Linked DNA regions of Homo sapiens: all the other regions are linked to region 3. Evidence: fine-mapped expression QTL. A gene starts in region 3. Each other region holds a variant in brackets. All regions are shown on one strand. Distances are between the middles of the regions.

Evidence for each region.
Region 1: its variant is fine-mapped to the expression of SLC9B2 in aorta (GTEx, PIP above 0.99). The same link has a PIP of 0.9 or more in atrial appendage, esophagus muscle, tibial artery and tibial nerve.
Region 2: its variant is fine-mapped to the expression of SLC9B2 in lung (TOPMed, PIP 0.99).
Region 4: its variant is fine-mapped to the expression of SLC9B2 in transverse colon (GTEx, PIP 0.91).

The regions. Positions count from the first base shown.
Region 1 is chr4:103,095,402-103,103,500 of GRCh38, reverse strand. It overlaps BDH2 (3-hydroxybutyrate dehydrogenase 2), which reads left to right and starts at 3,667. Exons shown (of 10, transcript NM_020139.4): 1 at 3,667-3,718; 2 at 7,227-7,318. The coding sequence starts at 7,247. The variant A/G (reference allele first, on the strand shown) is at 4,236.
Region 2 is chr4:103,215,127-103,223,237 of GRCh38, reverse strand. No RefSeq gene overlaps it. Among named protein-coding and RNA genes, the nearest start is that of CENPE, 21 kb to the right of the region's middle. The variant G/T (reference allele first, on the strand shown) is at 3,547.
Region 3 is chr4:103,073,493-103,081,603 of GRCh38, reverse strand. It overlaps SLC9B2 (solute carrier family 9 member B2), which reads left to right and starts at 4,843. Exons shown (of 12, transcript NM_178833.7): 1 at 4,843-5,420. It overlaps BDH2 (3-hydroxybutyrate dehydrogenase 2), which reads left to right. Exons shown (of 10, transcript NM_020139.4): 10 at 1,849-4,012. The coding sequence ends at 1,902. RefSeq lists an enhancer at 4,844-4,963 and a silencer at 5,074-5,183.
Region 4 is chr4:103,408,414-103,416,524 of GRCh38, reverse strand. No RefSeq gene overlaps it. Among named protein-coding and RNA genes, the nearest start is that of LINC02428, 13 kb to the left of the region's middle. The variant T/C (reference allele first, on the strand shown) is at 4,665.

The DNA.
Region 1 (8,099 bases), 22 kb before region 3:
TGGTGGTGTGTGCCTGTAATCCCAGCTATTCGAGAGGCTGAGGCAGAAGAATCGCTTGAACCCAGGAGGCAGAGGTTGCAGTGAGCCGAGATCATGCCACTGCACTCCAGCCTGGGCGACAGAGCAAGACTCTGTCTCGGAAAAAAAAAAAAAAGTATTATATATAGAGTCACTTAAGTTCCTCACCTCTAAGAAGTGGTTGATTAGGAGTATCCAATGCAGACATTTTGCATACCTCTATGAACAGTTCATTTCTTGGACAATCAGTGCTCTCTGTACTATTAAAAGGAGAGCCAGGCTGGGCGCAGTGACTCATCCCTGTAATCTCAACACTTTGGGAAACTGAGGCAGGAGGAGCACTTGAGACCAGGAGTTTGAGACCAGCCTAGGCTACATACTGAGACCTCATCTCTACCAAAAAAAAACAATTTGGAGGGCTGAGGCAGGAGGATGGCCTGAGCCCAGGTATTCAAGGCTACAGTCAGCTATGATGGTGCCACTGCACTCCAACCTGTTCAAGAGTGTGACCCCATCTCAAAGAGTAGAGCCTTTAGCATTTTCAAATCTAATCAGACTAAGAGCCAATTCCAGGAACCCCAAAACCAACTCAGGAAACTCATCCTTAAAATTTTGTTCCTCTAGAACCTCTCCTGTTACCAAAATCTGTCTTAGGATTTTCCAGAGAGACAGAACCAATAGAATATACACAGATGGTCACCAACTTGTCATGGTTCAACTTGAGATTTTTCAACTTTAGGGATGGTGTGAGAGCGATACGCATTCAGTGAAAACTTTACTTTGAATTCTGATCTCTTCATAAGATAGCAATACTCTACTGTGATCATGGGCAGTGGCGGCAAGACACAGCTCTCAGTCAGCCACGGGATCACGAGTAAACAACTGACACTGTTCAGTGTACTCTGTTCAATAAATCCCATGAGTCAGTCAACACCTTGTTATAAAACAGGCTTTGTATTAAATGATTTTATCCAACTGTAGGCTAACAAGTGTTCTGAGCACATTTAAGTAGGCTCGGCTAAGCTCTATGTTCAGTGAATTAGGTATATTAAATACATTTTCAACTGACAATGTTTTCAATTTACAATGGGCTTATTGGGATGTAACCCCACTGAAGCTTGAGGAAAAAAAAAAAAATATATATATATATATATGCAGAGAGAGAGAGAGAGGATGTTTATTAGGGGAATTGGTTTACACAATTAGGGAGGCTGAGAAGTCCCACCATAGGCTGTCTGCAAGCTGGAGAGCCAGGGAAACTAGGAGCGTGGCTCAGTCCAAGTCTGAAGGCCTGAGAATCTGGTCGGAGTTCAGGTATCCAAGGGCAGGAGAAGATGGATGTCCCAGTTCCGGAAGAGAGAGAATTCACCTTTTCTCTGCCTTTTTGTTTTATCTGGGCCCTCAGCCAATTGGATAGTGCCTGCCCACATTGGGTGAAGTAGATCCTTACCCAGTTCACTGATTCCAATGCCGATCTCTTCCAGAAACACTCAGAGATGTCCCAGAAATAATGCTTACCAGCTCTCTGGGGATCCGTAAATCCAGTCAAGTTGACACCTAAAATTAATTATCACAAACATTGTCTTGAGAGCCTGGCAGAATTATATTCAGGAAACTTATTAAGAAACTGCCATTCACTCAGCAAATATTTAATGAGCATCTACTATCTGCCAATTACTGTTTTAGGCACTGAAAGGCACTACCAATGTGGAACTCATATTGTAGATAAGAAAACAAGTAACTAATACTCTTTTAATACGAGCTAATCACAATGTAAAGGTGTAAAACATAGTCCCCACCCTTGAAGAAATTTAGTCTGCTGAGAATACTAATGGGTAAGCAAGTATTTGCAATACCATGTGACTTAGGCTGTTATCAAGTAAGCATTGTTGCTGAAGATTACAGAGGGATGCTGAAGAAAGCTACATCAAGAAGCATTGGAGTTGGCTTTGATTAGAGAACTCTCATAAAGTCTGTTCCAAAAGCCTCAAAAGTCAAAGGGCATTATTAGTAAAGCAGGAACAAAGCTAGATGTGATTACAGATTGTTAGAGCCAGCATTAGAAGTTGCTGAAACAATGAACAAGGAGGGACAATTTTACCATAGACCTCATATAGACACATGCAGAAACTAAGTCCAGTTTTTAAAAGAACATTAAAAAGCGCAACTTTTACCATCCATTATAATTAAATTTCTCCAACAATGTCTTCATCATAAGAATCACTAACATGTATTAAGCACCTGTGTGGCAAACATTGTGCTGATGGATTCACAGGCTTAGTCGTTCCTCCTCACCACATCCCTGAGGTAGGTGCTATTTTACCTTCATTTTACAGATGAGAAACATAAGAGGTTCAGAGATTTAAGTGATTTACTCACTTAGCTAGTGAGAGAGAGATATGGGACTTGCTCTAGTCTTACTGACGCCACAGTCTTTGTTCTTATCCCCTGTGACTGTTAGAAATCACTTAGCTCCATGTAACAAAAAACGTGAAAAACACTAAAGTTTATTGTCCTCACATAAGAAGTCCAGAGGAGTTGTTGCCTTGAGGCTGTCATCAGGGCCGCAGGCTCCTTCTCTTGCTGGTCCCTGTCGTTAATGTGTGCCTCTGGCCTCAGATGAACTCACTAAATGGCTGCTCTGTCCCACGGCATCCTATCTTCATTCCAGGCAAAAAGAAAGGGAGGAGCAAAAGCTAAAAGCCTTTCAGAAGGGCTTACTTTTCTATTTAAGAAGGAGGCCCTCCTCAGAAATTCCCACCTGCATTTCATTGGCAACATCTATGCTGCTTGGCCACCCCTAGCAGCAAACAAGGCTATGAAGTAGAGACTTTTGTTTTCCAGCTTTGACAAGTGAAAAAAGGGGAAAGTGAGTTGGATGGGTGCTGAGGAAACCAATTTATACAGTACATGTACAAGTAGCCTACACAATCACTCTGCTCACTGGCACTACAGATAAAGCACATGTTGCTATCCTAACCTAGAGGGCTCATGAGATCTAGTCCTTTCTTTTTGACCTTATATCTCTGTTCTCTTCAGCCAAACTGGGGTTTTTCGCTGTTAACATGTTCCCTTTTAAGCCTCCACCCTGTCATCCAAGTTTCACGTTCTCCCCAACCCCATTCCCAGTGTAGTAAAAGGCTCCTGGCATTCTGCCACTAAATGTGCATTAGTGTTAGAATATTCTGAGCATGAAAAAATAAAAATCACAACTGTATCTCAAACAAAAAGGATTTTTTTTTTTATTTCTCTCCCTTAAAACAATCCAGGCCAAGTGACAGGAAGGCTCCAGAATTTTCAGTGACCTGGGTTCCCTCTATTTTGTTGCTCTGCTATCTTCCACACGCAGTTTCCAGCTCAGCCAATCTCGTCTACCCTGGCACCGCATATAGTAGGCATAAACAAAACAGAGAAGTGGAGAGACTGAAGTGAAGGAAATGATTTCCGCATCCTAAGTAAGCTCTAAGGTGCTTTTCCACTTTTCACCTTCCACTTGGAATTCATAGTTCTACCTGAATTCCACTAGATGGCAGCACATACATTTATAAAGTGTATGGATGGAGCCACTAAACTCTGAAAGCAGGGAAACTACAAATCCCAGCATGCATTATTAAGCGCTTGACTTGCTTCCAGACAAAGGTTGTCTCAAGTTTGTTGCTCAAACCGAGTTCTGGAGAACGCCATCAGCTCGCTGCTTAAAGTAAGATTTCCTAATACTTTTGAAATGAAACTTTAGAACGGAAAGAGGGGAGGTTTAATTTTTAGATGTTGTTTTTTTCTGCACGTTGCCTGTTTCAAAATTAATCTGAGCAGTTAGATCAGTGTAAAGATGGGTTTTTAAAGAGCCTGAAACTCTGTGGTATGTATGTTTTATAAAGTAGCCCAAGAAAAAAGGATTCTTACGGTATCCTAAGTGAAGAGTTTTCTTCCTGGCTCTTGAAAACAATGGCTTCCTGAATATGCTGTTTGTGTCTCTGCTAATCAAAAATCAACATTTTGATTCTAACTTTTGGACTAAGGAAGCCAACATGTATGGTTTTCACATTGGATATATTGAGAGGTGCCTTGTTTTACCATTTCAGGCCGTGTTTGCTCTCATTTTCTCAAAGAAATCTGTTTTAGTTTGAGATTACAGTTTATCAAATGTTAAGGCTTTGACCCCAAAATCTGGTCCCAGAAAGACAGGAAGGCCAGCTAAGAGGAGGTTTTCAGAGTGC[A/G]TAGAAAGGCTGCTCTGTGCTTCGGCATTTGTTCTGGAAGTGCTTCTTCGGTTGGCAAAGATTCCTAGCAAAACCTTTGACTGGAGGCTTTACAGGGCCATACACCCAATATCACTAATGACAGTGTTGTAAAATAGCTTTTGTGCACCATGCTTAGGATTCAAGGAGGATAAAGTATATCTTTCTAAAGTTATACTTTAGAAACTGTCATTCCATGTTGAAATGATAAACATTCCATGTTTATCTTTTGTGTAAGAAGTAAAAAAGCAAAAATTCATTGCATCAAAGTAGGTCAGGCACTGTTAAAGCCAAGCTTCCCCATCGCCTAAAAAATGTGGACAAACTCAGAGGAAGTCAGTGATTATAAGCTGATCCCTGGAGCCAGTTCTTACATAATTGTGTTAGTCTGCTCCTCCAAGAAGCAGACTCCAAGATAGAATTAAATATGCATGGATTTTATTAGGGGAAATGCTGTTGTGAGAGAGAATGAGGAGAGAACTAGGTAAGGCTGTGAGAGCCATCAGACCTCGATGCAAGTCCACCCGCGAGGGAGGAAAAGAAGGAAACCAGGTTGAGTGGAAGCATCCCAGACAGCTGTGCAGTCTAAGAGAACTTCAGCAAGGTAATAAGGAGCTTCTCTAGCCAGTCATCCGTTGGGGAGGAGGTCTATGTCTCCCAGAAATGAGTCTGCCTTAGTAAGCATGCATGCTCAGGCACTGGCTTGTAACGGCCCCGAGAAGGTGGCCTCAGCACAAACCCAGAGAGGCAGCAGCAGCTGCGCCTCATTGTCCATTACTTCCTGGGGTCAGCGGTCTGCGAGGCACAGGCTCCTGGTGCCACAGTGGGGATTTAGAGAGGCCCGCAGGGCTTTGAGTACCATGAGACAATGCCATGAGATCTTCCCTTGGACCTGCAACAAGAAGGCCTAGGTTTGAATTCATAGCTGCAAAACACTGGGCAAATAACATTTCTTTGAAATTAGCCACGTTGGTGATCAGGTCCTACCTATCTCATCTCTGAAACACTTCTCCAATCCACCTATCTCTCCATCCCTGCTATTTTCTCCAGCCCTGCTATTTCACCAGCGCCCCCACTAGATAACCCTAGCAGCCTCCTAATGGCACCCCATGCTCCTGCCCAGGTATGTTCTCCACAGCAGTCCTTCCAAAATACGAATCTGATCATTTCACACCCTTTCCATAAATCCTTCAGTGGCTGTTGCCTATAGGAGTAACTTGCCCTTCACCATGTGGACCTTGGACCAAGTGTGGAGGTTTGAAATGGAAGAGCATATTGGGTATAAAAAAAAAAAAGTTTGGCTAAAGAGAGAACTGAAATAAGTTCAAAGAGAAAGGACTAGGTAATATAAGCCCTTTAGGCAAGGCTATCAACCTGTACAAAATCAGGCAGATAATGGAACAGAGTGATTGTGTAGGCTAGTTTGCATGTACTGTAAGTTGGTTCATCAACACCATCCAACTCACTTTCTCCTATTCTTCACTTTATCAAAGCTGGAAACAAAAGTCTCAACTTCCAACCTCTTTGCAGCTAGGAGTGGCCAAGTAGCATAGATCTGGTGAATGAACTGCAGGTGGGAATTTCTGAGAAGGTTTCCTTCTTAAATAGAAAGGTGAGACCTCTCTGAAAGCCTTTTGGCTTTTGCTCCTCCCTTTCTTTTTGCCTGAAATGTGGATATGATGCCTTGGACAAAGCAGCCACTTTGTGAGTTCGTATGAGGTCAGAGGCACACATTAATGACAGAGCCCAGCAAGACTTGGAGCCTGTGTCCTTGAAGACAGCCTCATTTGATGGTCATTTGGCTCTTCTCCACCCCCAGCCTCACTACTAGCTCTTTCTCTCACTTTGTGATCTATAATCCAAGCACTGGTGAAATATCTCATGCACATGAGCCCCGGTGTCAGTGTTTCTCAATCATTTAGAAATTACTGATTATGCCTGTTAATGTGTTACTACTGCATGCTTAAACTTTATAAGAGGATCGGCAGCATTGTGGGCTGGACTGTTCACATAGCAAGAGTCTGGAAGTCTAAGTTTAGTTCTGGCTTTCCCATTGACTGGCTCTATGACATTGGGCATGTTTCAGCAGTTTCCTCATCTGTAAAATGGGAGTATTGGATGTGATTTGATTTTTCCATCCTTTTTTTTTTCGATGAATATCTGAGACCAACTATGAAATCTTTTCAAGAGAAAAAAAATCATAAGCAATTGATAGTGCAAACCTCAACAAAAGTTTATGGAAGAGAAATCAAGAAGCAGCCCTGAGTAGTAAGGACACAAATAATGTCATAGCAATGTGTGCAGGGGTCATGGAGAGAGTGATGGTGGTAGTGAGGAAACTCAGCACCAGAGGCTGTCCTCTCCAGGTACTGAAGGAAGGATAAGGTAGGTTAAAGTGCAATATCTGGGCTGGGCACAGTGGCTCAGGCCTGTAATCTCAGCACTTTGGAAGGCTGAGGCAGGTGGATTGCCTGAGGTCAGGAGTTTGAGACCAGTCTGGCCAACATGGTGAAAGCCCGTCTCTACAAAAAATACAGAAATTGGCTGGGCGTGGTGGCAGGCACCTGTAATCCCAGCTACTCAGGAGGCTGCGGCAGGAGAATTGCTTGAACCTAAAAGGCGGAGGTTGCAGTGAGCCGAGATCACTCCATTACACTCCAGCCTGGGTGACAAGAGTGAAACTCCATCTCATAAAAAAAAAAAAAAAAAAAAAAAATGGCCAATGTCTGTCACCAGTCATTACTTCAGTGGGTTATGGTAAATGTGTTTGATATACAAAGCTAGGTATGCAGAGTAAGCATTCTAGGAGAATTCAGATGATGGGACTACTTGCACAGAGGTGCTGTCTTCAAGTTCCTGAAGGAGCTCACTAAATTATTCTTAAAAGAGCACACTGAACTATTCATTCTAGATGTTACTGCCTGCTCAAGATCATGTTCTACAGTATAACCCATTAAACACACATGTCTTTAGATTAAACCACAGGTTCCATTATGGGTCGACTTGATGGGAAAGTCATCATCCTGACGGCCGCTGCTCAGGGGATTGGCCAAGCAGCTGCCTTAGTAAGTTATAAGTTACTATCTTTGTTGTTTGCCTACTAACTCTTGACATATTGAATTATGTGGACTGATGCCATGGTTGTTTACTTCTGCTCTGCTTTTTTATTTTTTTACTTTTGTGCTTCTGTTGTCTTAAGTTATAAAAATAAACAAATAAATAAATAGGTCCCTACTCCTGACCCCAGGCAGATGAAGGAATGAATACCTCATATTTAGTACATGACATCACTGATAACCATTGACTCTGAGAAACTTCTCTACTTCAGTTTCTCTGCATCATGATATATTCGCTACAGAGGGCAAACAGGGTTACACAGCTTTCTGAAATTGTGTCAGTTTAGATATATGACTCCAGAGTTATAAGACAGGTTACCTTGTTCTCCTGATTTATATCAATTTCTGTTACATTATGTACCCCACTTAAGCTAATATCGGCACCTTAAGTATAACAGTACCTTAAGTATAATGGCAGGGTATGGTTTGACATTTATGAAAGCACTAGCATACTCTTAGTAGGAAAAGTGTTGAAACAACCAATTTTTCTCTTATTATTTGGAGTTTAGTAACTCAAACTCAGAAATGATATATAGTCTCATTACAGAAGAGCAGTATTTTGAGAGTATTGAAAACAGCTGTCATTTTTTTAAGAACGTTATTTTGTTTGATATTACTTAAAGGGACTAAGTCAGATGACAAGCACAATGTATGTCACATTGTTCTAATTAATGATAAAAATAATAACAATGGAGAAGGGGTAAGACTAGATAGTTTAAAATTCTAGCTA
Region 2 (8,111 bases), 140 kb before region 3:
AATCTGGTAGCATGAAGCATTCAGTTTTGCTCTTTTTGCTTAGGATTGTCTTGGCTATTTGGGCTCCTTTTTGGTTCCATATGAATTTTAAAATAATTTTTTCTAGTTCTATGAAGAATGTGTTTAAAAGTTTGGTACAATTAACATTGAATCTGTAAATTGGGTGGTATGGTCATTTTAATTATACTGATTCTTCTGATTTATGAACATGGAATGTTTTTTCATTTGTTTGTGTCATCTCTGATTTCTTTCAGAATTGTTTTGTACTTCTCATTGCAGACATCTTTCACCTTTCGGGATAGCTGTATTCCCAGGTTATTTATTCCTTTTGTGGCTATTGTGAATGGGATTGTGTTCCTGACTTGGCTCTTCACTTGGCTGCTGCTGATGTATAGGACTGTTAGTGATTTTGGTACATTGATTTTGTATCCTGAAACTTTGCTGAAGTTGTTTATTATCTTAATAAGCTTTTGGGCCAAGACTATTGGGTTTTCTAGGTATAAAATCATGTAGTCTGCAAACAATGGTAATTTGACTTCCTCTCTTCCTATATGGATGTCCTTTATTTCTTTCTCTTGCTGATTGTTCTGGCCAGGACTTCCAATACTATGTTAAATAGGAAAAGTAAGAGAGCATCCTTGTCTAGTGCAGGTTTTCAAAGGGAATGCTTCCAGCTTTTGCTCATTCACTATGATTTTGGCTGTGGGTTTGTCATAAATGGCTTTTATTATGTTGAGGTCTGTTCCTCCACTGCCTAATTTATTGAGGGTTTTTAACATGAAGAGATATTGAATTTTATAGAAAGCCTTTTCTGCATCTATTGAGATAATCATTTGATTTTTGTCTTTAGTTCTGTTTATGTGATGAACCACGTTTGGTGATTTGCATATGTTGAACCAACATTGCATCCCAGGGATAGAGCCTACTTGGACATGGTGAATTAGCTTTTTGATGTGCTTCTGCATTTGATTTGCCAGTATTTTTTTGACAAACAATATTTGTCAAGGATATTGGTCTGAAGTTTTATTTTTTGTTGTGTCTTTGACAGGTTTTGGTATCAGGATGATGCTGGCCTCATAGAATGAATTGAGGAGTCCCTCCCCTCAATTTTTTGGAATAATTTCAGTAGGAACGGTACCAGCTCTTCTTTGTACATCTGGTAGAATTTGGCTGTGAATTCATCTGGTCCTGGGTTTTTTATGGTTGGTAGCCTATTTATTACTGATTCAATTTGAATATCATCATTGGTCTGTTCAGGGTTTTAATTTCTTCTAGTTCAGTCTTGAGAGAGTGTATGTGCCCAGGAATTTATCCTTCTCCTCTGGGTTTTCTAGTTTGTGTGCATAAACGTGTTTGTAGCAGTCTCTGATGGTCATTTGTATTTATGTGGAGTCAGTGTTAATATTCCCTTTGTCATTTCCAATTGTGTTTATCTGGATCCTCTCTCTTTTCTTCTTTATTAGTCTTATTACAATAATAAGATAAATAGTGGCCTATTTATCTTTTTTCTTTTTTCCAAAAAACCAACTCCTGGATTTGTTGATCTTTTGAATGGTTTTCTGCTCAGTTTCCAATTTTGGTTATTTCTTGCCTTCAATTGGTTATTTCAGCTCCAATTTTGGTTATTTCTTGCCTTCTGCTAGCTTTGTAGTTGGTTTGCTCTTGCTTTGCTAGTTCTTTTCAATGTGATGTTAGGTTGTTAATTTGCTATCTTTCTTACTTTCTGTTGTGGGCATTTAGTGCAATAAATTTCCCTCTTAACATTACCTTAGCTGTGTCCTAGAGATTCTGGTATGTTGTATTGTGGGTCTTATTAGTTTCAAATAACTTTTTGATTTCTGTTTTAATTTCATGATTAACCCAAAAGTCATTCAGGAGCAGGTTATTCAATTTCCATGTAATTTTGTGGTTTTGAGTAATTTTCTTACTCTGGATTTCTAATCTTAATGTACTGCAGTCCAACTGAGTGGTTGTTATGATTTCAGTCCATTTGTATTTGCTGAGAATTCTTTTATGTCTGTTTATGTAGTTGATTTTAGTGTATGTGCCATGTAGCAATAAGAAGGTATATTCTGTTGTTTTGGGGTGGAGAGTTCTGTAGGTGTCTATCAGGTCCATTGATCCAGTGCTGAGTTTAGTTCTTGAAAATCTTCGTTAAATTTCTGCCTCAATGATTGGTCTAATACTGTCAGTGGAGTGCTGAAGTCTTCCGCTTTTATTGTGTGCAAGACTATGTCTTTTTGGAGGTCTCTAAGAACTTGCTGTATGAATCTTGGTGCTCCTGTGTTGGGAACACAGGATATATTTTTAGGATAGTTAGGTATTCTTGTTGAACTTAACTCTTTACCATTATATTAATATAATGCCCTTCTTTGTCAATGTTTATCTTTAATGGTTTAAAGTCTGTTTTGTCTAAAATCAGGATTGCAGCCCCTGCTTTTTTCAGACTTCCATTTGCTCAGTAGATTTTCCTTCATCCCTTTATTTTGAGCCTATGGGTGTAACTGCATGTGAGATGGATCTCTTGAAGATAGCATACTATCAGGTCTCGCTTTTTTATCCACATTGCTATTTTTTGCCTTTTAAATGGGGCATTTAGCCCATTTACATTCAAGGTTAGTATTAATATGTATAGATTTGATATTGTAATTGTGTTGTTAGCTGGTTATTATGCTGGTTTGTTTGTGTGGTTGCTTTATAGTGTCACTGGTCTGTGTACTTAAGTGTGTTTTTGTATTGGCTAGTAACAATACAAAACTCTATGGTAATGAACTCCCTCAGCACTTGCTCATCTGAAAAGGATCTTATTTCTCCTTCGCCGAGAAAGCTTAGTTTGGCTGAATATGACATTCTTGGTTGAACATTTTTTTCTTTAAGAATGTTGAATATAGGCCCCCAATCTCTTCTGTCTTGTAAGGTTTCCACTGAGAGGTCAACTGTTAGTCTGATGTGGTTTCCTTTGTAGGTGAACTGCCCTTTCTCTGTAGCTGCCTTTAACATTCTTTCACTTCAACTTTGAAAAATCTGATGATTATGTGTCTTGGGGATGACCTTCTGGTGTAGAATCCTGCAGGGGTTCTCTGTGTTTCCTGAATTTTATTTTTGGCCCCTTTAGTGAGGTTGGGGAAGTTTACATGGATGATATCCTGAAATATATTTTCCAAGTTGTTTGCTGTCTCATCATCCCTGTCAAGGATACCAGTGATTTGTAGATTTGGCCTCTTTATATAATCCCACATTTCTGAAAGTTTTTGTTCATTCCTCTTCATTCTTGTTTATTTTCATCTCACTATCTTACTTCAGAGAGCTAGTCTTCAAGTTCCAGGATCCTGTTCTCAGCTTCATCTATTCTGCTGTTAATACTTGTGATTGCATTATGAAATTATTGTAGTGTCTCTTTCAGCTCTATCAGACCAGTTAGATACTTTCTTATACTGGCTATTTCATCTGTCAGCACAGGTATCATTTTATGGTGATTCTTAGTTTCCTTGGATTGGCTTTTGCTGTTCTCCTGAATTTCAATGATCTTCATTCCTATCCATCTAT[G/T]TCTGCCATTTCAGCCAATGAGTTGGTTAAGAACCCTTCTTTGAGAACTAGTGCAGTCATTTGGAGGACATAAGACACTGGCCTTTTGAGTTACCAGAGTTCTTGTGTTGGTTCCTTCTCATCTCTGCATGTGGGTGTTCCTTTAACTGCAGTGAAGATTGAGTAAAATCAATAGACTTCTTGACTTCTTTTCTGGATGTTTTCACAGGACCAAGGCTTTGTGCAGGGTAATTATTTGTAGCTTCTTGTCTTTGGTTTCACAAAGTTGGTGAGATACTTTAGGTGTTGAAGTTTTGGGATGTGATCCAGTGGGTGGCACTTAGGCATAATGGTCAGTAAGAGTCTCTTGCTCAGTCTTGTGGCTCTCCTATATTTCCTCACAGCTGTAGCCATGCTGCCTCTCTATGCTCTGAAAGTGTGAGCTCCTCTCCCACTTCAGTGCTGGCTGTAGATCACAGCTTGGCATTCCCAGGCTGCCCAACACAGTTCTGGGGTAATCTCAAGGTTAATGTTTCCTCCCCAACTTGGAGGCAGCAGAGGACAGGACCTTCACAGTGGTTGTGATGAGGGTCTTTTACTTGTCTCCTGGGGGCTTTGCTCTAGAGAGATACAGGTCAGCTATCTCTCAGTGTAATCAGCCCAAGTTAGGGGTCTGTGCTGTGGACCCAAGCTGGGGGTTCCCTGCTTAGTGATGAGCAGTGGGGTGGGTGGGACTCATGCAAGATGAACTGGCCTCCTCTCCTTGGGTCAACTGCTGCTTGTTGAAGTATGGATAAGGTACTTAGGGCTTTTGCTCCTTTGTTAGTCCAAGGGTAGAAGGGGTAGTACCACTGCAGAGGCCATGGCAGGGGGACTTTGGGTTGCCTCTGAGGGCCCCACCTCCAAGAAATGCAGAGCTGCTGTTACTGGGAGTGTTCAGCCAGTGGGGTGGGACAGCAGCACTAGTGGTATGAGCTTAGAACTCTGTTGTTGGGGAGTAGGGGGTCAAGGGCTCACTGGGAGGAGATACTGGTCTCCCCATATGGTGGATGTGGTGTTCTGTAACCTGAGGTATAGTCCTCAGGCTCTTTGTCTCTTCCCCAGACCAAGGGCAGCAGGGATAGAACTGCTGCTTTGGCAGTGGCAGAATGGCTGTGGGATGCCTCTGGAAGCCTCTTCACAAGAAAACTCCAAGCCACTACTAGTGGGTATACTCCACCATGGGTGGGATGTTTCTGCAGTTATGAGGTGGAGGCCCTGACTGGTGAAGAGTGTAGGGGGAAGATTCCTAGGGCAGAGGGGCTGGACTCCTCTCCATATGGTGGCTGTGGTGTGCTGGAGGTACCAGGGAGTGAGTGACTAGGCCTTTATTCTTTCCCCAGCCTGTAGGCTATTAGGGCAGTACCACTGCAACTGCAGTGGCAGAGGGGCTGTGGGTTGACTTTAGGATTTTCTCCTTACAGAAATGCTGGGCTGCCTCTGATTGAAGTGGTCAGGCAATGGCAGGGTGGCTGTGGTGGTGTCTCAGGTCAAGCAGCTCTGCCCAGTGAAGAGAAGTAAGCACCAGGACATGTACGGAAAACAGTCTGGCCATTTTCCCATATGGCTGCTGCAGTATGCTGGGGTTCCGCTCCAGTCCCTAGTCACCTTGGATTTTCTATTATTACCTGAAGGTATCAACAGTGAAGTCTGCAAAGCAGCAAAGATGTCAGCCTGCCCCTTTCTCTGGAAGCTCCATCCCAGGGAGGTATGGATGGGTTTCCAGCCCAAACACACTGGCAGAGATGGCAGGAGACCCTGGTCAGGAGGTCCCACCCAGTGAGGAAGAACAGGATCAGGGACCTACTGCATAAAAGCAGCCTGGCCACTTTTTCATAGGGCAGCTGTGCTGTACTAGGGGTCTGCTTCAGCCCCCAGTCACTTTGAGCTCTCCAAAGCCTGAAGGCAACAATGGCTAAGGCTGCAAAACAGCAAAGATTGTGGCCTGCCCCTCCCTCTGGAAGCTCCATTCCAGGGAGGTTTGGAACTGATGTCTCCTGGAAAACACTGGTGGGGGTGGTTGCAGACCTCAGTCAATAGATTCTGGCCAGTGAAGAGAAATAGGATCCAAGCCAGTGGGTCTTGTCCTGCCAAGTGCTGTAGAAGCAGGGCCTGCAAACTGTCACTTCTCAGGCCCCTGGATTCATCCCTTTTCTTATGGGTATGTATAGGGGTCTAACCTTCTGATTTGCTGGACTTGCAACCACTTTTGCTTGGATGCCCAGGTATCTAAGTCTCCCCAGGTTCCATATGTACCTGAGCAGCTGCTCTGCCAAGACTTCACGTAGCTCTGTGTGTCAGACTGAAGTCCCTGGTGGAGAGGTTCACAAGGAGCTCTCTTGACCCAAGGGTTGCAAAGATCCATGGGAGAAGCATGGGTCCCTGGGGTCACTCACTCACTCACCACTTCCCTGAAAGAGGGAGGCTGCCCTGGCTCCCTGTCACTCTCAGGTGGGCAGTAATCCTGCCTTGCTTCTCTCTGTTCCCAATGGGTTTAGCTGTTTTCCTGATGAGTCCCAATGTGTGTACCTGGATGTTTCAATTGAAGGTGCTGTATTTACTTGCCCCTTCTATTTCTCTTTCTGAGAGCAGAGCACACTAGCTGCTTCTAGTTGGCAATCCTGGCCAGCCTCCCTCAATCTTCTTTTTAAGTTAGTAAAATTCATCAACATATTTTGCCACTTCCTGTGTTTATCATTTTTTTTAATTTCGTTCCTCCTCTCTTTACGGAATATGCTTTAGTTAAGTTCTCTTATTTCTATGTCTGTGAACGTCTATATTTTACCCTCACTCTTGTGATAGGTTAGCTAGATATAAAATTCTAGTCGACAGTAATTTTACCGCAGCAATTTGAAGATAATTAACAAATATCTTCTGGCACATACTATTAGTAGTGAGAAGTCTGCTCACATTCTCATTGTCAGGCCTTTTAGGTAATCTTTTCTCTTTTTCTTTCTGGAAGATTTTAAGACTTTTCTCTTTATTCTTCATGTTCTCTAGTTTCACAAATTTGTGACTAGGTATGGAGTTACCTTTAACGGTCCTACATGCTTTTTGGGGTACACTTTCAATCTAAGAAGTCACATCTTTCTCAAACTTTGAAAATTCCTCAGAAATGATCTCTTTGAATATTGCTTCTTTATTTCCTTTATTTGCATCTCCTGGAACTTGTAGGGTTTCATAGAGTGTCTATAAGTATGTATGTTGCAGTCTTTGCAGCTATCCTTCATTTCTTTTAATGAATCCTTCATATTTTTAAATCACTTTTTGTTTATCTCAGCTACATTCTGAGCCCATTTCTAAATATTATCTTCCAATTTACTAATTTTCTATTTGATTTTGACCTGTCTAGAGTTTATTCTATGTGCTAATAATATCTTTTTTTCTTTCTTTCTACTGATTTTTCATATTCCCGTATAATTTTCCATACATGACATTACTGCAGGACAGTTCCATGGGTGGTGTTGAACCAACCCAGTTCTCCCCCATTTCTTACTTGTAGTTCTGCAGAATTAACTAGAATGTGCTGGACATGCAACATCCTGAGATAAGGAGGAGGTGGCCAGAAGAGCACAGACTCTGTCCCTGTTGCCCCTAGAAACAGTATATCCTTCATCGCTTCAGCCAGCGTGTCTTATTGTTCCCACGGTGAAAAATTGAGGGTGGGCTGGTTTCCAGGGTCCCTCAGCTGTGGTACAAGGGACCCTGGAAAGCAGCCCACCCTGGGTTTTTTACCCTGGGAGCAATAAGGCACTCTCAGAGGAGACTCCATCTGCTCTGAGCAGATTTCCTGAGCCCCCGGGGACTGGCTCATCATAACTCGTAGGCTTCTGTTGTCCCTTTCTGCCCATCTATAAGTAACAAAACTATGCAATTTGTGTGTGAGAGAGTTTTTTTATCTCACAAGACTCAGGTACATAGTAAAAGTGCAGCCCAGGATTCTGAAGTGGTAAGCAGTGCACAGTGAACCTGCTTCACAAGCACCAGTTCCTCATTCTACATCACCATCACCATTTTCACTACATTTCCAGTATGTAGGACATCCATCAGTAGACATTATAGTTTGTTTTCCCAATCTAAAGATTTTTTACATTTTTAATTATTGTAGTTACATAGTAGGTGTATATATTTATGGGATAAGTGAGATGTTCTGATACAGGCATGCAATGTAAAATAAGTACATCAAGGAGAATGGGGTATCCATCCCCTCAAGCATTTATTCTTTGAGTTACAAACAATCTAATTATACTGTTTAAGTAATTTTAAAATGTACAATTAAGTAATTATTGACTATAGTCACCCTGTTATACTATCAAATAGAGGTATTATTCATTCTATCATTTTTTGTACCTGTTAACCATCCCTACCTCTTCCCCAGCCCCCTACTACTTTTTCCAGCCTTTGGTAACCAGCCTTCTACTCTCTATGTCCATGAGTTCAATTGTTTTGATTTTTAGATCCCACAAATAAGTAAGAACTTGTGATGTTTGTCTTTCTCTGCCTGACTTGTTTCACATAACTTAATGATTTCTAGTTCCATTCATGTT
Region 3 (8,111 bases):
TTACTTGTGGCCGGGCATGGTGGCTCATGCCTGTAATCCCAGCACTTTGGGAGGTCGAGGCAGGCGGATCACCTGAGTTCAGGAGTTTGAGACCAGCCTGACCAACATGGTGAAACCTCGTCTCTACTAAAAACAGAAAATAGCTGAGCGTGGTGGCGGGCGCCTGTAGTCCCAGCTACTCGGGAGGCTGAGGCAGGAGAATCGCTTGAACCAGGGAGGCGGAGGTTGCAGTGAGCCGGGATTGCGCCACTGCACTCCAGCCTGGGTGACAGAGTGAGACTCCGTCTCAAAATAAATAAATATTTTTAAAAATTCTTACTTGTTCATCATCGTGTATGGAAATTCCTAATTTAATCTCTTCCACTTTGCATCTGTTTAACAGTTTTTTCCTTAATAACTATTGTTTACTTTTAAATGGCTTAAGATGAAAGCAAAAATGATGCTTATAAGGTATAGAGCACAAGAAGGTCCTCCTCTGTTTTATGTCTCTGAATACTACAGGAACAAGGAACTGTAATGTGTGAGAAGAGGGAAGGAAAGGGGACTAGGCGGGAGCGAGGAGGGAACAACTGATAGCTCCTCTTCCCAGTAACTTGGTGCACACCAGATAGTTGGTGAATGTGACAAATACAGGGATTGAAATGTTTCCGTGACAGCGCAGTTTCTTCTCAGAACTTCTCCCAACTATTAACAACAATTGTTAATAGCTGGGGAAATTAATAGACAAATGTTTAATGAAGAAGCACATGAGCCTTTGTGATTTCTCTGAATCCGTATCTTCAGAATAGCTCATTTGATTTGGGTACTGCTGATAAGCTAAATTACCCTTAGTTAGCCAGAGCTTAGGTTACAAGATATTTGGAAGTGTTGTGGCTTGAAATGTGCTACAAAAGTACCTTTGGCTTTTTAGAGGTTTCCAGAGGAGTTCATATGTGTAACAGAGCTTGTCTTTTAAAAGAACTTGGGGGAGTTGGAGGTATTTCTTTGGTGAAGTGACTAATAACTCCCTAGTTCACCTACTGTATATTATCAGCTTTTATCTATTGAACTCTTAAAATTTCTCTATTCATTATGATATCCTTACTTCCTCTTCCATTGTTTCAGGCTTCAGATGAATTTAGACTGTTTGAGTCTTTATTATCCATTTTAAGTTAAAAGATTTTTAAACTTCTACCAAAAAGATCACTTCAGCCTTATTTAGAAAATGAAAAATTTATGGGAATAAACCAGTAATTATTTTTTAAATTCCTTAGTTTTATAAAGATTTGGATATCTGAAACTAATATAGAATATTTTTATAGCTTAATGGATTATAGTTATTATCATTCATGTAAATTTTTAAAACACATTTAGTGTGCTTCAGCTCCTACAATTATCCACTTATAATTGATCAACTAAATATATGCTGTCTTTTTTAAAAAACTGGTCATTAATATGACCATTTTATGACTGATACACTTATGTTCAAAAGTTTATTAGTGGCATAAAACTTAGCTAGTTTTGAATAGTTCTGAGTTTCAAAATGAAAATGTGCTTTTAGCCTATATCCTAATTTGGGGAATGGCTATACATCACTGTTCCTTAATTTGGGGATTCTGAGACCAAATACCTAACAGTGACAGGTGCTTAGACACCAGCCAGAGGCCATTTAGTTCCAGATCACAGGACACTCAGCAGTTCTAAATCAACCAAATGTTAATTTGGATTTCCCTGAATTAAGTGTTTAAGTGAGGTTTCCTGTTAGGACAAGGGTAAATTGTTTAGTTATCCTAGTCACAGGAAAATTTCAAAATACAGCCTGTATCAAACCTGGTTAATTGTTCTGTCTCCTTGTGTTTATCACTGCAGTCTGCTTATGTAACTGGTAACCCTGTCATCATTGATGGAGGCTGGAGCTTGTGATTTTAGGATCTCCATGGTGGGAAGGAAGGCAGGCCCTTCCTATCCACAGTGAACCTGGTTACGAAGAAAACTCACCAATCATCTCCTTCCTGTTAATCACATGTTAATGAAAATAAGCTCTTTTTAATGATGTCACTGTTTGCAAGAGTCTGATTCTTTAAGTATATTAATCTCTTTGTAATCTCTTCTGAAATCATTGTAAAGAAATAAAAATATTGAACTCATAGCAGGAGAATAGTTTTTAAAATAAATCTCGATTTGTTAGCATCTGTCTTAGTCACTTTGGGCTGCTATAACAAATTACCATAGATGGAGTGTCATAGACAACAAACATTTATTTTTCAGTCTGGAGGCTAGGAAGTGCAAGATAAAGGTGCCAGCAGATATAGTTTCTGGTTAGGGCCCACTTCCTGGTTTGCAGATGGTCCTCTTCTTGCTGTATCCTCACATAGCAAGAGCAGAGAAAAAAAGCGAGCGCTCATGTGTCTTTTTATAAGGACACTAATCCTGTTCATGAGGGCACTACCCTTATGACCTGATTACCTCCCAAAGGCCCCACCTCCTAATGTATCATATTGCAGGTTAGGATGTCAACACATGACTCTGGGGTGATACAAATAGGCCATTGCAGCATATACAATTAAAATGTAAATATGAAGAAAAAAGGAAGTTTTTGTTTTTTTGTGGGGGAGATGGGGGTTAAGGAAGAAGATAGTAATTTCAGGACTAGGCATGGTAGCTCATGCCTATAATTCCTGCACTTTGGGAGGCCAAGGCAGGAGGATCACTTGCGGCCAGGAGTTCAGGACCAGCATGGTTAACAGAGGCTAAGGCAGGAGGATTACTTGAGCCCAAGAGTTTGAGGCTGCAGTGAGCTGTAATCATGCCACTGCACTCCAGGGTGACAGAGCAAGACCCTGTACCTAAATAATAATAATAATTTCCACTTCATTTTTCAATATTCAAATATTTTTATATAATTCTGCATTGTTCTGTATGTAGATCCTAATTTTAAAATTTTACACCATCATAAATGAACAAAGGTAGGAAGGAGTTTGGCTTCAATAGCTTACAGTAAAAGGAGTAAAGGAGTTCAGCCTCAAAACGATATTGTTGACCTGTTATGTTATGAAAAATAATCCAGTGTTTATACTTAACGGATGCCATCCCTTATTATTTACTATTTTCTTAGTCTAACTAAACAATCTTTATTAAAATAAGCAATGATATTTGACATGGGCCTAAGAAATATATAGTTAGCTAACAATATTGTCAGTTAGAGGGATTTCTTTTCTAAATTAAGTACAGATTTCTTCACCAAACTCCAGGATAACAGAAAAGAGGACATAAAATTTGGACATAGTTTCTGGATAAATAAATGTAAATTTAAATATAAATTATGTAACAGGAAACAAACGAAATTAAAGAAAATAAATTTTTCAAGAAAAGTAAATTTATGGATGTTAATTCTGTAACATTGTCAGGGCAAAGTTTTTTGTTTTTATTTTAATTTAAGGGTTTTATGTTTGTTTTTTACTTGTTGCAACCTCAAATGACCAAATGGTATGATGCACACTGAGATACTCAATAAATGTGCAGTGATTCTTAGCCTTTTTTCCTAGAACTTTAATATTAACATGGAAAATTCTGAAATGGACAACAAAAAGATAACACTTTGTGTATGGGGAAGAATATCATGCAGTTGATGACGGTACATTAAAATTCACACAAAAGGACATTTTGACTAGCATTCAGAAAGAGTCCATTGATTATAAGATTATCTATGAGGTTTTGGACCGGGCACTACACTACCGAATTATGGCTAACTTTGGTTTGTGATCTAGACCAAGTCACCCAATCTATCTTGGATTTTAGTTTTCTGGTTTATGAAATTAAGGAGTTAAGCTAAATGACTTGGGTTTCTTTTCGTGTATCATAATCAAAATGCTGTAACTTCTCTAGTGAATTCATAGAACACTGACTCTTACAAGTATGTCATGAAATACTTTATGCTGTGAGCAGGTATACATGTATAATATATGTATAGCTATGAACAAATAAATTTTAAATAAATGCACAACGAATTCTACAAAATGGGCTCCAACATTAACAAATGATCTGAGTTAGTCTTTCTCACAGCCGACCATAAACTATAAAACATTTTTATAAACACTATCAGCAATAAAAACGAAGTAAAATCTAGCCAAAAAATTCAATGTTCTCCAAAGTCATGTTAATCAAATCAGGTGATATATTAATGAAGTACATATGACTAAAAGGAAAAATATATGTCATTCCTGTGGTAAGAGGAAGCTGAATGTCACTAGAAATTTTTACAAGCTTTAGGAGAGGAAGAGTTCCGTTTAGGAAAATAATCATTTCAGATGATCTGAAGAAGGGTATTGGATGGAACCTATCCAATAGGTTCATCACAAAAGAGGACCTGAGAGACAAGAATGAATGGTTTCTGACTGGTGGAGAAATTTGAGGATAATCTCCCTTGCTTGAAAAGCGGTGATTAAGATTGGCACTTGCTTACAGGAGTGAAAAACAGGTAAGGGGTGCGCGCGTCTTAACACACACAAGAGGAAATACAGAGAAAAGGAAGACACAAACATGAAATGAGAATTAAATGAAATAGAATCACACTGCTGATAGAAGGGTTAAAAATCTAAAATACAACAAGAAGGGCAGGTGTTAAGCGATAAAGGGGGGCAGAACAAGTCTTTTATCCGGCCATTTAATTGGTCACCTTAAGAAAGAATCCTATCTTCCCACCGCAGCTGAGAAGACACTTCTAAGAGGTACAGCTAAAAGGTGGAGGACTGATAGACAACTTAGAGGTTGGTTTCGGGAACGATAAAACAAGTAACGGGCTGCCCGGCCTGCGCCGCGGAGTCCCGAGGAGCCTGCGCTGTGCTCCTCTCGCGGTGTCTCGTCATCTCCGGGAAGACTCGGCGCCTGGGTCCGCGCTCTCTGGGTAAGCTTTCCGGGAAGCTTTCCCGGGAGCTCGCTGGTCCTGGCCCCAGAAGCCTGCGGACCCGCCCAGGGAGGATAAGCAGCTGAAAGACCGCGCGGTGCCGCTCCGAGGCCCCGGGACGTGGGCCCATGGTCGGCCTGGCGCCACCTTTCCGGGGGAAGCCACGCGCACCAGGCATCGCACGCGGCTCTGCACCCGCGCCGCCGGACCTGAAACCCGGCGGAGGGCACACGGGGCTGCCGCTGCGGGCCCCGGACCAACCCATGCTTACTCCGGAGCCTGTACCGGCGCCGACGGGTCGGACCTCCCTGCGCGGTGTCGCCCAGCGGGTTCGTGCGAAAGGCGGGGCCGACTACACGCGGTGCCGCGCCCTGAGACCGTTTATCTGCAGTCAACGCAGCCTCCCGGCTCAGCCTGGGAAGATGCGCGAATCGGGAACCCCAGAGCGCGGTGGCTAGACCGGGCTCCGCCGCCTCCCCCACAGCCCCTTTCCTAATCGTTCAGACGGAGCCTGGTCGACTTCGCCGGAGACTGCCAGGTGAGAGGCCCCAGAGACACTAAGGGTAAAAATAAACCCAGCGCCAGCGGCGGGTACCCTGTAGGCCTGCTGGACCGGAGACGCGAGCGAGGGGCCCAGCCTTTTCTGTTTGTACACCCGGTGACGGGCGCGTGTCTGTTTACTGTTGTAAGGTGTTGGCGTGGGTTTTCTTGCTTGCTTTTATTTTAGTTCTCAGATTAACCAGAGGGGGTGTTGCCTTTGTGGACTGGGTTAGCATCCTCGAGGTGCTAAGAATCATCGTATGCTATTGACTGAAGAATATAACCTTAAGACAGCAGTAGCTGCTGTAAGAGATAAAGTAAAACATCTCAGTAACTAAACATAGTTCAGGCTTATTTCTCGTTCATGTCAAGTCCATTCACGTGTTCAGCTGTTGGCCTTCTACTCAATTATTCAGGAACCCAAACTCCTTTTATATTATGGCTTTGCTATCCCCTAAGACCTTGGAGTCCTTAGTTTCCAGGCAACGGACAGAAAAAGAAAAGCTACTAGAGGATTGCATGAGGATTGTTTCTTATGGGTGAGGACTGGAAATCACATACTATTTATGTCCACATGCCATTGACCAGACTTCAGTCACATGCCACACTGACCTGCAAGGGAGACTGGAAATGTACTATGGACCCAGGCAGAAGAGTAAACGATTTTGGTAAACACATATCAGTCTCTGACCATCCCTTAAAGGGCAGACTGCATCTTAGTCATCTTTGTTACTCTTGTGCCTATCACACCAGAGAAACTTGTTAAGGCTTTGTGAGGCCGAGGTGGGCATATCACCTGAGGTCAGGAGTTCGAGACCAGCCTAGCCAACATGGTAAAACCCCATCTCTACTAAAAATATAAAAATTAGCTGGGCATGGTGGTGCACGCCCGTAATTCCAGCTATTCCGGAGGCTGAGGCTGAAGAATCGCTTGAACCCAGGAGGCACAGGTTGCAGTGAGCCAAGATTGTGCCACTGCACTCCAGCCTAGGTGACAGAGCAAGACTCCATCTCAGAAAAGAAAAAAAAGGAAATGAAACTTGTTAAGGGATGGGGTTGTTATGTGTCTAAAGTTGAAACTTAACCATATTTCATTGTGATTGCTTAGGAATCATTTATCATCCTTTATCATCCTGTAACTAGATTACAAGATCTGAATATAGGAACTATTTAAGACCGTTCACTTCTGAATCCTCAGCTCAAGGACTGGGACGTAACAAGAGCTTAATAGCTCTTGTTTGTTGAATGAATGAATGAATCATCAGAGAGGAAAACGAGGGAGACAGTTTGTCAATGTTGGAGTTAGGAAATACTGAGAAGGTGACATTTGAGTTAGATTTTGAATTTCTTCAAGTAGAAAAAGCAGAAATGAAACTCCAGGCAGCAATAGTAGTGATATTTTATTGTTGTTGTTTTGTTTCATGAGTGGAAATTTGGAAAACAACCAAACGTTTATAAGTCCAACTTTTCTTCATTCAGTATTCAAATATTACAATTTAACTTCAGGGTAGAGGAGGGGAAATACATAATCTTACAATCCAAATAATTTCTGTTGACTAAAAGAATGGCAGTGAAAACCTTGGCACTAATTTTTAACTTTATAAAATGTTATTTTCTGGACATTTTTGAGAAATTTCAATACAAAGGCAGTGTTCTGATCATTCATTGTCTATGATGATTTTGCACTGTAACAAGAAGCTAGAAAGATAGAAACTAAAGTTTGTAAGACAGAGGTTCCTCATCACTGCTGTTCATCAGGGCTTCTCAGGGATGGTTCTGCAACAAAATCACCTGTTATATTGGTTAGGATGCTTTTGGCTGCAAGTAACAGGATATTCAGCCAAAACTCCCTTCAAAAATACAGATGTACTTTGCTCATACATGAAGATGTTTGAAGGTAGGTGGGTCCAGGGTTTGTTCAGTAGCTCAGTAATATCAGGGCTCTATGTTGCTTTCTGTGTTCAGCTAATCTTGACTTTTCTTCATGGGTGAATGATGGCTGCTAGAATTGTCCCAAGAAACCCATCCACAATCCCAACTTCCCTTGCCTCTTTACCTGGTCATTTAAAGACAAAAAGAGGAGAGGATTTTCCTCCTCTCTCTCTGTCTTTATTAAGAAGGAAAATCTTATGTAATATGCCCCAATAGTCTTGCCTACAAATTCCAATGGCAAGAAATGAATCATGCTCACTCCTTAGCCAATAAGTGGCAAAGAGGAATGGTGTTACAGAGATTGATTTACACCAATAATGACTTATCCCTAGGGCGGGAGAAGGGTCCTACTGGCATACCTGAACACTTGGCATTTAGACAGGCCATAAGTCATGTCTGTCCCACTTGGGGTAGATTCGGTCTCTGTAGATTCTGATTTTAGTGGGCCTAGAAATAATATTTTAAACTTTTAGTAAGTATATTTCACTTTGGTGAGGAGAGAGAATAGAAAGGATGAAAGCAAGTATTGGGTCCCTTATGTAGGGGTAATTTCCTTTTATTCTTATCTCATTATATAGTGTTTTCCTTCATGAGTCAATGAAATTACTAAATCAATTAACCAAATAAAATAGCGGTTGTTTTCCTTTGGTAACTTGGCCACATGTATTTGACACACCTAAGTCTTTCAGATAAGGTAGTTCTCATTCAGGGAAACACTGTTAGTCATTTTAGTAATTAATTGTCTAAGAAAGTGTTA
Region 4 (8,111 bases), 330 kb before region 3:
ATTAGTCGGTTTTCACGCTGCTGATAAAGATGTACTGGAGACTGAGCAATTTATAAAAGAAAGAGGTTTAATTAGACTCACAGTTCCACATGGCTGGGAAGGCCTCACAATCATGATGGTAGGCAAGGAGAAGCAAGTCACATCTTACATGGATGATGGCAGGCAAAGAGAGAGCTTGTGCGGGGATATTTCTGTTTTTAAACCATCAGACCTGTTGGGGAGATCAGTCCCAACCCCCAGCCATGGGTACCCAAAGTCCGGCAGTGACAAAGGAATGAGAAAAGACAAGTTAAGAGTAAAAGCAGGTCCAGGGGGCCATCTGCTAGAGTGAAGGCTGCAGAAGGCCCAGAACACTGGTTTCCTGAAAATTTATTGAGTACAATCTTTTTGATCTAAGAAGCAGATGGTACGGGGTGAAACGGTGAAGGTGGGGGAGCATGCGTCATTGGAAACATGTATAGCACTGGCGGTTATGTGAATTTCCTTTAAGCTCAAAGCATATGTCTAACCACTATGATAATCTTTAACTTACCAGGCTGCAGCTGGTGGGAGCTAGGATAGGATGTCTGGTCACATTCCAATGCTTCAAGGGAGTGTTTCCGCCCAGAGCATTCTGTGTAAAGCCACAGAGCAGGTCATGCTCACTGGCCTGGGGGCACAATGGCAATAATGAGATGTTTCTCCTCAGGTGCCCCCTATGGTGTTCCAGAGGTGTCCTACACAGGGGTGACTGACTAAACTGGCACCCCATAAACCCTTCCACCAGCAAGATCTCATAAGACTTATTCACTATCATCAGAACAGCATAGGAAAGACTTGCCCCCATGATTCAATTACCTCCCACCAAGTCCTTCCCACAACACATAGAAATTCAAGATGAGATTTGGGTGGGGACACAGCCAAACCATATTATTCTATCCCCTGGCCCCTCCCAAATCTCATGTCCTCACATTTCAAGACAAATCATGCCTTCCCAACAGCCCCCCAAAGTCTTAACTCATTGCAGCATTAACCCAAAAGTCCACAGTCCAAAATATCGTCTGACACAAGGCAAGTCCCTTCTGCCTATGAGCCTGTAAAATCAAAAACAAGTTAGTTACTTCCTAGGTACAATGGGTGTACAGGCATTGGGTAAATACAGCCATTCTAAATGGGAGAAATTGGCCAAAACAAAGAGGCTACAGACCCCATGCAAGCCCAAAATCCAGAAGGGCAGTCAAATCTTCAAGCTCCAAAATGATCTCCTTTTACTCCATGTCTCACACCCAGGTCACGCTGATGCAAGATGTGAGTTCTCATGGTCTTGGGCAGCTCCACCCCTGTGGCTTTGCAGGGTACTGCCTCCCTTCCAGCTGCTTTCACAGGCTGGCATTGAGTGCCTGCAGCTTTTCCAGGTGCATTGTGCAAGCTGTCAGTGGATCTATCATTCTGGGGTCTGGAGGATGGTGGCCCTCTTCTCACAGCTCCACTAGGCAGTGCCCCACTAGAGACTCTGTGTGGGGGCTCTGACCCCACATTTCCCTTCAGCACTGCCCTAGCAGAGGTTCTCCCCCTGAGGACCCCACCCCTACAGCAAACTTCTGCCTGAGCATCCAGGTGTTTCCATAAATCCTCTGAAATCTAGGCGGAGGTTCCCAAACCTCAATTCTTGACTTCTGTGCACTCACAGGCTCAACACCATGTGGAAGCTGCCAAGGCTTGAGGCTCGCACCCTCAAATTACTCCTGAGAGCTGCCTCACATTTGGAATTTTCAGCCAAGGGAACAAATTCATTTCTACGTTTTAATTTAAATTTAAACCTTTTTTTTTTCAGTTTTACGTTACCTGCAGGTGAAAAAAATCCTAAGAAATATTCTTTCCAAATGCTCTATTTTCCCAAATAAAAATTTATTGATTGAGAACAATTTAGTATCTATTACTATCACATTCATGACTTCAACATTCTTTTGTTGAGCTCCTACTGTGTGCCAGATCCTGTGGCTGATTCTGTTTCTACAAAGATGCCTAAGATATGTTCCTCCCCTAGAGGAACTTAGATCTTATTAGGGGAACATACATGTATTAAATTATATTATGAGGTGTAAAGTGCTTTTAATAGAGGCACAGGGTGATGCGGATGCAACAAGGACAACAATAGCAGTTACGTTTGAGGTAGTGGGAGGAGCAGAAATATCTTGAAGAAGGGAGGGGATCTTCCAAGAAGAGAGAGTTTGCTTAAAAAGAAGCTATAAAAATGCAGAGCGTATGTGAGGATTTTTTTTTTGGTGTTTATATAATTCAAAATAAATCTGCTAGAAGGGAGTGAGCTGTTTTCTATGCAGATGAAGAATCAATGCCATTCTCTCTTTTTAGCAGTAAATTAAAAATACTTTTAAAGACAAAATATAAAAAGAAAAAAGATATTTTTAATTTTAGCTTGACATTTAAGATCCTGCAAATAAATTAATGGTGCTAGTAAAGTAGATTAATATTACAATTAAACAAACATCAAACCCAAATTGTGGGTTCATTCCTTAGATCTGCTGTACAACCTTCAAAAGGCATTTATTATCTCTAGATATTAGTTCCTTCATCTATAGAAACAGTCTTTTACTTTTGGAGATTCCATTTCTGTTTCTGAAAAGGAGTTATTTTAATCTCATGCATTTTTTTTAAACATCAAATGTGGTTCCTGTTTACTTGCTTTGGATTTTACAAAAAAAAAAAAATTAACTCACTTTTTGAATTATTTGTGTACTTGCTTTATTATAAATTATTAAGTAAGTGTTCGGGGGGAATATGTATAGAGTAAAGAAAGATGACTGATATGGTTTGGCTGTGTCCCCACCCAAATCTCATCTTGAATTTCAATTCTGTAACATATATAGACTTTTAAATAATTCATAAACAAAGTAATAAGGATATCAGTGAGATTAATGGGAATAGAAACCCTGAAACTTGGAAGGTACTTTAGTCATTGTTAGTTGTAGTAGATATTTTTGTCTGGAAATGGGAAGTGGGGAAAGAACTGGTAAGAAATTAATTACATCAACAACAGATAAAGCTTTGGGACAAATCATGTGGAACAACAATCCAGTTGTTTTATTAAATGAAAGTTGTAAATTAATCAGGTGCCACTTGGCAGAGGAAAGCTCTTTTAAAAGACATGTAGCATTATTTCCATCCTGTCCTGCAACTGAAGCAGAATTTTTCTAAGAATATATGAAATGCTCATTCATTTTTTTCTGAGTTTTAATGGGAGAAGGTTCAGACCCAAGCAACATGAGCCAGTGAGGAGGGGTGAGAATCCAGAGTATATGAAAACTGGCACAAACACACTGAGAAACCTTGAAGAATAAAACCATGACATCCAAGGCAGAGTGTACAAAGGTTATGGTGAACTTCCTTGGTTCTAAAAGTTGGAAGCAGCAGTAGAGGAACACTTGGGGATGCTCTGGTTCCAGGAAAACTGCCCATTTCCAGCTGTAAAAAGTAAAGTAGAGATTCCTCTTCAAAGACTTTCCTCCTCATCTAATTAGGAATAAATAGTAACCTCTCTTAGAAGCAAAATTTTTTCAAAGACCTGTGCTAACATTCTTAAATATCTGCTAGCCGTAATAAAGAAATCAATGTACTTTATGTTCTTAGCTCCCACAAGTTAGCCTAAATATTTGCCCTGGCATGCTTATACTCGTTCAAGCAAGCATTAGGTCATAGCCTGGTCCTCTTCCTTATTTGAAGGTGTTTTTACCTTTCTCAGCATTCCACAAGTTACTTCCTCCTTCCTTTGTTCTCCTCCGCCTTTGCCTCTTTTAAAAAGTTCTAAGTTACTAGCCAATCGGGACAAATACAGAATGTGAGGTCCTATTCCAGCCAATGGAAACTGGACACAGCAGTAGGGTGGATGCATCAGGTTATAAATGAGCCTGTCTCCTTTGTTCAGTGTACTCTCATGGCAAAACTGCTGGTGCATATACCCTTTCTGCAGAAAGTATACAAATGGCCTTGCTGAGGAAATTAAATTTATGTTCAAGTGCTATTTCTTTATGGCACCAGGGAACAGCATTTCAAACACAGCCATACCTTGGCCAATGAGTGGCTAAATCTATTACATGGAGTTAGCTTCTGAAGAAAGGAGGGAAGAAAAGGAAGAGCATGAAGATAGAATAAAGGTAGGACTGAGGAAAACAGGGAATGAAATAGAAGGAAGAAGAAAATAAAGGAAATTGAGACAGAAATCTCAAGACTATGGGAAATATCTAAATAAAAGGTGATGGATGCAGATTAGGAGTGCTTTGACTTCTTAACTTTGGAGGATACATAACAATGGCATACTGCTAACAACTAGATTTCTGAATAAAAAATAGCTTGATTTTTAGCATTTGCAGATTCCTGTGGCATTAATACTCTCATTATGGCCAATTTATAAGCCAACAATGTGATAACACTTTGCAGAAATACACGATAATACACTATTATTTGGTATTTTTACTTTATAGATGTAATATATGTAAATATCCTCAAAAACATAGAAAATAGTAAAATAATTAAGAAGTGATGAGATTTAAGGCTATCTTAACTTTGCTTTAAATACGTTTAATAATAAGGCTATGTAATATAAATTTTAATAATGGCTGTGTATACAACTGGCTCACAAAGCTTGAGAAAAATTAACAATTTAATTA[T/C]CATCAGCTTTTGCAAGCTAGCTTCTGCATACCACACATGATATTGTCATCCCTGGCAACCAGTTGCAGAATTTATTGACAGCCACTCAAAACTTCTTAAATATGAGGGCAAAGCTATGTTTGTCAAAGTAAAAATCAGTAAAATATTGAAGCAGAAAAGATCCATTTAAACTTGGTGAAATAAATTCACATTTTTTCTATTGTTTCCCACAAATAATGAAGGAATTATTTTTTAAAAATCCACAAGCACAAAGAGAATGGGAGAGGACCACATACCAGAAAAAATATGTCACCCAAATTTGGTAAGCTGGAAAATAGAGACATGAAAGGCAACTGTTAATAGCAGAGTGGAAAAATGGAACCTAAATACCTACAGAGGGACAGTTAGAAATTTGTATTTCCACCCACACATATTTCACACAGTCAGGTGTTCTCCTCTCCCTAACTACTTACAGGAGACAAAAAGGTTGTAGAGAGAAGAAGGGTGTGTGTGCGTGTGTGTGTGTGTGTGTGTGTGTGTGTGTGTGTGTGCGCGCGCGCGCGCGCATGTGTAAAATATAAGATAAAGTGCTGCTTAAGAGCTTTTTTTTAAGATTATACAAAGAAAAATCAGAGGCTGTCCACTGGAGCCATTATGTTTGAATTACTTTTGTGTACCCTTGGAATTCCGTGGTCTTTCTATCAACTAGACATCCTCCAAGCTGCAGCAGCTGAGTCTGCCTATGTTTGCTTGCCTCATTATTTCAAAAAGTATATTTTAAATGACTGCTGTCAGCTGGGAAATTTCCTATGCCCTAGATTTACAATGAAGCATAAGAGGCACTCTCTTTCAAAAGACACTCAAAAACAAATATAGAAGATATGCAAGCAAGAGAGCAACCATCATATTGTGAGATAATTCTTAATCCAGGGATAAGAACAGAGGCAGCACAAAGAAACTGAATCTGGAAAGTTAACTAGGTGTTGAGTAGAGTGGTGGATGGTGTTTTATCAGAGAAATAGATTATATGAAAACCAAGATTAAAGAAGAATACCTCAAATTCAGGAAATGGCAAGTATATCAATAGATCAGCATGGTTGCGGAGTAAGTGGCGAGAGAAAATGATACAAAGAAATACAGGGGACCACATTATGACTGACATTAAAGATCATGTTAGGAATTTTGGACTTTATCCTAAAGGTGATTCAAGGTTTAACAGGAAGAAGCCATGATTCACAATTTGTTCTGTACCACTGGGATCCCAACTTGACACTTTCCACCTGCTCTAGCTGCAGTTAACAGGGCTATGAGTACTTGTATTCCATCATGTTCCCCCTGTGAAATTTCCTCATAATTCACAAAAATTTAAAGCATTAAATTCCGTCACAGTGACTTAGTCACACTAAATTCTATTTAATTTTCTACTGGCTGACTCCCAAAGTTCATTGTATAACACTTAGTTATTCTTAAAGCATTTTGCAGAATGCTCATGTAAGGAAATTAAAGACCTATCAACAAAGATTATTGAACCAGCAGTGTGTTTGGTTGGCAGATAGAATTTTGGTGATTTCATGATTTTTGAAAATAATCTCTTGTTGTTATTGTAATCTTATTTACTGACAACTATGGAATTCTTATTCTCAGGGTTCCTATGGAGTGGTGGATTGTAGCTGACCCTCTGGCAATTTGACTTACAACACTCTAATTTTATGATATTTCTTGTTATAGATGATAGTCCTAAATTATCTATACAATTTGATTTATGAATATCCAGTATTTGGAAACTTTGGGGAAGAAACTGAATCTAAAATCAGAGAAAGCAGATGTATATGCCTATCCAGAAAAGCCAGAATGAGAATTCAAATTTGAGGACAAAGTCATTTACCAAAGTGGAAACTAGATTAATACGGAAATTGGTCAGCAGTAAATGAGGAGATTCAGGACAATTCAAATTTAAATTTGTATTTAAGATTTATATTTATGGATAAAAGTGGAGCGTGTGTGTGTGTTTATATTTATGGATAAAAGTGGAGCATGTGTGTATGTGTGTGTGTGTAAAACACACAAAGACATAGTGGTAAGAATGAGAATACAAATGCTGTATTCTCACTATTGTGCTGGTCATGCATTCATTTTAAGGCATCTCCTACAGGTGAGGCCGTGCTACATTAAGTTTTCTCTGGAGCTTCTTTTTGTCTTGGATGGGCTTGCAGGTGGTTGTGTATCAAACCAAATTACGGTCTACATATCATATCATAATGCAACTTCAGTAGATATTTCTTCAGATATGTTTTCAGGCTCTTCATTAGCAAGAGCCATATTTAGCCAAATACATGTCTGTGGGTGGGAATGGAAAGCTCTTCTCTAAATTGTTGGTGCAGTATTCTAGCAGAGCACTTTGTCTTTTTAGGGGATGTTGTAACTTTAAGACTAAGAGGGGCTGTTTCTGGACAAAGCAGTTCCTGAAAGTCCTGACAAATCATGATCCATCTCTGATTATCCAAACCTCTGCTCCAGGAGAATCCCTCTGCCATTGTGCATGACCAGCTCATCTTCTGCATCATCCACCTCTCAGTTTTTCCAGTGTTCCCAGGTTTCTTAACTGCCTGACCTTTATTTGCTAGTCCTAATATCTGATCCCATTTTATCCAACAAAACTTTTACCCTTGTAAGAAGCTCTAGACTTAATTCCTGCCAATGTGCCTTACTCTTTCCTGTTCTGCCTTCCCATTTTCTGCTTTAGATTTCCACATTGTGGATGATTGTCAAAGTCCAATGTAACAGTAAATGCATTACATGAGAAACTTAAAGTCATAGTATGAGCCAGAGAATAAAGCTGTAAATAAGAAATCAGGGTAGGAGATGCTGGCTGATGATGAACTCAAGATATTGAAGCTTGAAACCTCAAATAAAAAGGAATATCTCATTGAAGACCTGATCTGAAAAAAAATACCAGTAACAGAAAAGAGAATTCAAGAGGAACAAGAGCAAACCTCACAGAGATTCAAGTTGGAGGAACTCAAATTAACATTGTAGATAAAAGATGTCCAATTAAATTTAAATTTCAGATAAACATTTCAAATGTAACTAATTTTTATTTGCTAAATCTGCAACCTTAACTGAAATGGGATTTTAATACATCTCCACAGCAGCGTTAAAAACTCATCTCCCCTCTCTTTTAAATGTGCAGTCTTGGGTCAAAGAACAGTAAGGCTCGAAGAAAGAGGGATGAGCCGATGTCCAGCTACTATTACACCTCTTGCATTATATTGAGAGGCAAAATTTATAGATGTGGCCTATATCAGAAATTAATTTCAATCCAATTTAATTTTATTGACCATCAAACCTACACATGAATGATAACATGACTGACTTACAAAAGAATCCAATATAGAGATGTATAAAATTTAGCAAGCTTGCTTAATATATGACAAACTGAGTCAGAAAGATCTGGCTACATACCTCAT